Homo sapiens: one gene and its partner. The protein of the gene in region 2 interacts with the protein of the main gene of each other region in a pairwise test. Each region holds a gene or a part of one and is shown on either strand. Other genes may lie near its edges.

Evidence for each region.
Region 1: the proteins of NEK6 (region 2) and TASOR2 interact in binary tests that used the Homo sapiens proteins (3 or more experiments, as listed by UniProt).

What each region holds. Positions count from the first base shown.
Region 1 is NC_000010.11:5,757,806-5,761,335, forward strand, and holds part of TASOR2 (protein TASOR 2), read left to right. Parts: intron 1-1,081; coding exon 1,082-1,187; intron 1,188-3,484; coding exon 3,485-3,530.
Region 2 is NC_000009.12:124,348,120-124,351,948, reverse strand, and holds part of NEK6 (serine/threonine-protein kinase Nek6), read right to left. Parts: intron 1,113-3,829; coding exon 1,002-1,112; 3' UTR 1-1,001. UniProt on the Homo sapiens protein: Protein kinase which plays an important role in mitotic cell cycle progression. Required for chromosome segregation at metaphase-anaphase transition, robust mitotic spindle formation and cytokinesis.

The sequences.
Region 1 (3,530 bases), on a different chromosome or scaffold from region 2:
TCTGCTGTCTGCTGTGCTCTTTTCATACAGTGATTCTCTTATAGCAATGCTTTTCACCTCTTTTAACTGATTCTTACCACCACACTTGCTTCTGAGTTCCCTCCCTCTCGGTAGTGCAGCTAAGCTCCTAGTAACACAAATTCAGGATTTTATTATATTTAGTCTCTTCACTTGCCAAGTCAGAGCAGCTCCATATTAAATTGTTTGCTTAAAGTCAACCTTCTCCATTTCTGATGTCAACACCCCTACCATCTTGATGTCACAAAAATCTAAAAAATGGCTACTAAGTCAGCTTATTTAATCATCTACTTGAAAACTCATACTTTACTTCTCTCAGGGCACTTTTATGTATAAAACCTGCCCCGGCTCTGATCACATTGGAAGTGATACCACTTCTAGATCAAAAGCAGCATGTACCTTAACCAGTGTGACTTCTACACAGAACCTGGGATTTTAAATATTTGTAGGCACACGTCTGTAATCCCAACACTTTGGGAGGCCAAGGCAGGAGGATCCCTGGAGATCAGGAGTTCAAGACCAGCCTGGGCAACATAGTGAGATCCCATCTCTACAAAAAATAAAAATACTAGCCAGCTGTGGTAGTGTGTGCCTGTAGTCCCAGCTAAGGAGACTAAGGATGGAGGATTACTTGAGCCCAGGAGGTTGAGGCTATAGTGAGCTGAGATCATGCCACCACACTCCAGCCTGGGTGACAGCCGAAACCCTGTCTCAAAAAAAAAGGATTCTGTATTTAGAAACTTCATTTCTCTACTGCATCGGGGCCTCCTGCTTCTCTTCTGTCACACAATTTGTACACAGAACTCTAGTTGCTGGTGACCACTCCACTGTGTTCGTGTCTACAGAGTTATCTCCCACCATAGTGTGAGCAGGTGGGACCAGGCTGAGGGGCTTGTGAGAGCAGGATGCTGCCCAACCACATAAGTGACAGTGATGGTGTGTACTCAACCATGGGTCTTAGTCTGTTTTTTTCTTGTTTTACAAATAATTATCACTGGGCTTGGCATGAGCCAAAAGTACCTTAAACTTGTCATCTTCTTTTGCTACATTTATTGTTTTGTAGTTCAACTGAAGGAAATTATCAAAATCCTGGAAAAACTAAATGGAAATGGAAGATGGAAGTGGTTGCTTCACTACAGGGAAAATAAAAAGCTAAAAGAAGATGAAAGGTAAGGACTTGCTGTGTGTATGGTTCCTCCTGCCCTGCTGGGGTAGCAGAGAAACGCCTCATGTTCCATGGGCTCTAGCCTAGTGCTGCAGTGGAATGGCCTTCATCAGTAAAGAGCATGAGGGCTGCTGGCTCTGTATTCAATGAAGGAAGCTATGTGCTGTGACCGTAGCCAACAGTATGAGGCATGTACTTATCTAGACTAACAGAAGTAAGGGAGTCAAACTTAGCAGTCATGAAATGTCCATATTCTATTTAAGCCCTACTACTACAAACTTTAAAAAATATATGGAACTTGTACCATTAATGCTTTTTTGGATACTTATAAGTTGCCACCACTTTAAGGAGAATGGAAAAATTAAGACCATAATCTATCCTTAATTCAGTTGTACCCTAAAAGAAGAGGCTTATAAATACGCAAACTTCACTAAGTCTAAAGCTGTAATTTATAAAAGAAAAAAATACATGTTTGATTCCTTGGCTGAAGAGAGCTGGGGCTGAGAGATTCCTCCACATTCTCACAAGCAGGACCAATTGGAAAAGCAGACCTGACAAGCCCTTGTGAAATAAGGATTTCAGGCACTGTTAGGTGCATCCATTTTCATTCAGACTTCATCCCCAGGAGCTAGATAGCAAATCCTCACTTTTATAATGCAGAACTGAAGCAGAGTAGATAACAAACATGACCAAGGTCAAACAAGTAGTAAGTTATGAAGCTGGGTTTCAATCCCAGAAAGACGAAACGACTGTTAGCTGTATGTGACCTTTGAGGAACAGAATCTCAGAAAGCTTTTCTCTTGAAGTGGAGCTAGCAAAGGAGAGAAGGAGCACAGAGGTTTCCTTGGCAGGAAAGGAGGGTGCAAAGGCTTCAGCAGGTCAAGGGTATGACCATTCACAGCGGACTTCAGTAACCAGCACTTGAGGGGAAAAACGTCAACTTCGGTAAGTAGAGAAGCACATTTAAGGTTCTGATGTACCACAGCACACCTATAAAATAAGCATAAATCAATCTAGCACTTCTAGGGCTTTGGGTAGAGAAAGTCATGTCACTTAACGACGGGGATACAGCCTGAGAAACGTCATAAGACGATTTTGTCTATGTGCAGACATAGAGTGTACTTACACAAACTGATATGGTAGAGCCTACTCCTAGATTGCAAACCTGTACATGTGACTGTACTGAATACTGTAGGCAGATTTAATGCAATGGTGGTATCTGTGTGTCTAAACACAAAAAAGGTTCAGTAAATTACAGTAGTATAATTTTATGGGACCACCATTGTATATGTGGTCCGTCATTGACTGAAACATCATTATGTGGTACATGCCCGTACTCACTGCTGTTGGCGCTGCAGTATGCTCTTCATATTATACCACTCTGGCATTATGTAACAGGCGTTATGTATTATTGAGAACTCATTAGAAAACTCTTCATATCCTTTGACCTTTTGTGGAATTTACCCAAAATTCTAGGTGGTTATCAGTCATTGCAAAACCAACCTCAGTTCCATCTCTAGGAGGGAGATATGCAGACTACAGTTAAATATTTTAAAGTTTATACAAAATAATGCCCACCCAAAACTTACACAATAGAAGCATGTAAAAAGTTTCTATTCATAGAAAGAGGGATGGCATAAAAGTTGGTATCATGTAACTATGTTCAGTATGATGTCATAAAAAATTTATACAGGAAAAAGTGAAAGGAAATTAATTCATGATGTTAAGAGTGATTATCACTAGGGTTATGGGAATGGGTGTGATTTGGGTTTTCTCCAACAAGCATGAGAATGTAAGTGATGAAAACTAGAGAGACGGGAGTCGAGCAGAGACAGAAATGCTAAAAATTTAAACATACTGAGTTAACACATTTTCCTAGTAGTGATAGAATTTTCAGGGAAGCAAGAAACCAAGAAAATTCTGGCTGCTACCTAATTTTAATGAAGTTGGCGATTATCTGCCCACAAGGTATGAGAAGTATAGATGTGCATTGCTCTACAAATATACAACGCAATAAGGCCCACTCGAAATTCATGAAAGGCTTGCCAAGCCACATGGCTTGATTGGTCGTAGGTAGATGCATGATGTCCCTCTTAGAATGAGGCCCATGTTTAAAATCCACATTTACAAAAGGAGTAGGTACAATTGTGATGTTTTGAGGTAACCAAAGTGTGTCATGAAAAAGAACGTCAAGAAGAAAGGCAGAGGAACTCATGAGTTTGAATGGTTAAACTGAAGGCAAGAAAAAGTCCTAAGAATAAAACTGAAAAATATTTTAATATGCCTATGTATCTTTCACAGAGTGGATTCAACTGCACATAAGAAGAACATAATGTTGAAGTCATTT
Region 2 (3,829 bases):
TTTGTGAAGGGTGAGTGGCTACCATTTTTGGATCATCTACTTTTTGTATTAGCTAACTTGCATATTTTATTTCAAATTCTGTCTGTCAGCAATCCTGAAGGTAGATGATAGGTACTATTAATCTCATTGTACAGATGAGGAAATGAAGGCTCAGAACGGCTAAGAAACTTGCCCAAGCCCAAAGTCACGCTAGGAAGTTGCAGAACCAGAATTTGTAAAGGACAGCCCTTCGCTTTTCTATATCCCATGCTTCCTTCCCATGGAGGAAAATGCTTAACACTGATCATGAAATGAACCGCCAGCATTCAAGGAGGTGACGAAGTTCCTGGTACACAGCAGGTGTCCAGGAGAAGATGGCCCAGCCTGGCTGCCAAGAAGATGCTCCTGCTTCCCGATGCCTTTTGCCTGTGACACTCTGGCCAGGTGCAGGGCTCTCATCGTCACTCACCAAGTTATAAAACGTAGATAAAAATGTTAGCAGAATCACCACTCCACGGAAAAAAATGATTTCCACTTTATCCCTTTACAACAGAGTAAATTAAGCACACAGCTTGATTGAAAAGATACTAAGAACTAAACTGAACCCGGTACTAACCATTTTCAAAGGCTCACTACACAAATCACACGGTCTCCTGCAAGTCTCCTGTTAGCATAAGCCTTGACAGGTCACTGGAGGAATTACCCTAAAGATTCACATTACAATCCAGATACAGGGGGCTGCCGTGGCTCGCTGAACCACCTGCCCTTATTGACCCAGCTGAGATTGTCCACAACAGTATAAAGAAAGGACTTTGGAATCTGACCATCAGTGACATGTGGCCAGCGCCCCTCCCTCAGCTGCTCTGCCTTCAGCATCTGCTGTAAGGCTGGGCAGCCTTTTGGGGAACCTGCTGAACCCTGTGGTCTTAGCTGTTCTAGGCTACCAGGTGGCCACTCGAAGAGAAGACGACTCAAGTAAGGCAAAGTGGTGCTGGCTTTGATAAGGCACGGTGCATCCACGCTCAGGTGCTGGACATCCAGATGTGCATCTGCTTGGCCACCTGGTGCACGTATCCGATGTCAGGTCTCTGGTGGGGGTCAGGGCAGATGCACATGCTGACCAGTTCTCGTAACTGCAGGGGAGAGAATGGTGTGTTATTCTCAAGAAAGCAGTCTTACTGAGGCTCCGCACTCCACAGTCTGTCTGCATGAAGGCACTTCATCCTCAGAGCAACTAGATGGTCCCGTTGTCCCCGTTAGAGCTGAAGAACGGTGTTTAGCTGGGGCAAGTAAGGGGTGCGCAGCCGCATGGCTCCCAAGGGCTAGCCAGTACCCCTCCCAGGCCTGTCTAGTCCCAAAGGCTGTGCTTTGAGACCCTAAGAATGGTTAACCTCCAAATTATTTTGAACTTGTAGCTGTCCACACCATTGGGCAAATTGTGTGTGTGTGTGTGTGTGTGTGTGTGTGTCTGCTGTCAGTCACGCAGATGCCCAAACCAGAGGACAAAACTCAAGGCAAGGGCTTATTGATCATAATAAACGCATTAACATGCAGCAGGGCTGCAGTCTGCCCACCCCCGGCCCCTTTATTGTGCTCATGAAAGACGGAGCTTTTAATTATACAGACACTGAAGGCTGCTCCCGCCCCGAGGTGGGGGAGGGGCGCCTTGCGCCTCTGATCGCCTCCATTCTTCTGATAGCCGGAGTGCCAATTATTTTAATGGTAATTAAAATAATGACCTTAAAATGCCTACATCTTACCCTGCATCACGGGCTCACAGCCATTGGTTTCCATTTAAATACCTGCTGCTGGAGGGGTGGTCAGCCCCGCAGGCCACAGCAGCCGAAGCAGCAGCAGCAGCAGGAAGCTGGGTGGTCCTGAACCAGAGGGGGCTCTGGTGGTCTCAGTGGCCACACTCACTCAGGGACTGGGAAGGGCCCACGGGACGTTCTGGAGGCCCGGGGGCTACTGCTGCGCAGGCCCGTTAGGCTGAGGGATGGGGCCTGGGCTTCCTGTAGACTAGGGCTCCTCTCAGCTGATGGGGCATTTTCTCCCTGGGCCACAGAGCCTTAGGGTATCCCCTCGCACCTGCGTGCATGCCTTACAACCGAGAAGCCCAGGTGACACAGGGCCTGCAGCCTGCTAGGCCACTCCCGGAGTCTGAAGTCGCCTGTGGACAAGACAGCTGTTTTCTGAACCTTACAATATTCGGGGGAAGGTACCTGTGGTTGGCCTCTGACAGGTTAAAATACCCAAGAAAACCAGATTCAGGTGAAGTGTCTGTGACCCGAACTAATTTATGAAGTAAACGCACAGTTGTCAATAAGTGCATGTTTGAAGTTTTCAGAATTCAAGAGAAAAATAATAAAAGTGTCTTATTTTCATTTCTAAGCAGCGATATAACTTTAAAATAGGGTGTGCTGGGGGCTCCTGAGCACCACCTCTCACTCCTAAGCATGGGGCCCGGCGAGAGCCAGTGCTCCGGGGAGTGGGGGCTCGTGGCCAGGAAAGGGCTGACTTGGGACAGGGGCTTCAATGTTCATTTCAGCCTCATCACTGAAGTAGAGAGGGCGACTCCCATTTCTAGACTGACAGCCAAAGCACAGAGTTGTCACCAGCTCCAGTTGCACAGCTTCAAGCTTCTGAATCATACACAAGTCCGAATTCAGAAGATGAGAAAGGAAAAAAGCAAATGGCAACTATTAACTTTGTAAAGAGATGCAACTTGTTTTTCCTCCCACTGGGGAGGAGAAATACTTCCTCCAAAAGTGCAGGTCAGAACTTGGGAGCCAGGAGAGGAAGGGCACTGTGCAGCGCCCGACACTCGAGCTCCTCTAGCCCTGGAGTCTGCAACGCCAGCAAGCACAGGCTCAGCACAGGTGCCCTGCGAGGAGCCTCCGGCCTGGACACAAGCGCAGCACCCAGGACCTGCCCTGTGCAGTTTGGCCGGGGCAAGGGCACTCCTTCCAGAGCCTCACCCCAGCTAATTGATGGGCCACCAAAGACATGCCATCAAGAAGCACGATGGCTCCGTGGCTGCGCATGTGGGTTCAGATCCTGCCTCACCGGTCTTTTTAACTTGCCTGTGTCTGTCTGTTCCTTATTGGTAAATGGGTGAGGGGAAGATTCAACTCAGGAAGTCTGAACATGAGCTGTTATTATCGTGAGGTGACGGCCTGTGGTCCTATGGGGTGGGCCCACGGAGGCCCCAGACTCACCCACTAGCGTTGACCTTGAACAGAAATAAGGGTCACATGATATTTAGTGAACACTGACTGAGCCAGGCCCCATCCATTGGCCACTTTGGATGGTGGTGGCAGTGTTAGCCTGGTGCCTTACCTTAATCCTTATGCTGATCCTGTGTGGAAGATTTAATATTATCCCCATTGTATAGGTGAGGAAACTGAGACTCAGGGAGGTTAGGTGACTCACCTAGGAACAGTGCAGAGAGTGTGTGAACATGTATCTACACTTTTGACCCTGCTGTGCCAGGAAACCTGTCCTTTCTTCCTCACCATTATCCACCAAGGAGATTATTAGTCCCATCTTCAAGGTGACGGAGCCGAGGAATAAGATATTCACACATTCCTAGTAACTGGTACAGCCCCATGCCAGACCCATGGGAGCTGTGTCCACGGCTCCCGCAGCCAGTGTAAAATGTTGACAGTAGAAGCCCAGGGTGTTAAGTCTGTTATATAAGGAGGAAACTGACCGGTCCTCCTGCCGTAGTTTCCTGTCATGGGAGCAGAGTGGCCACCACTGGTGGTATGGGGACGCCAGGCCTGCCACATCCTGCCCCTGTATCAGTTCCCATGTCTGGCACGGCACAGACCCTGTCCTGGGGACCTGC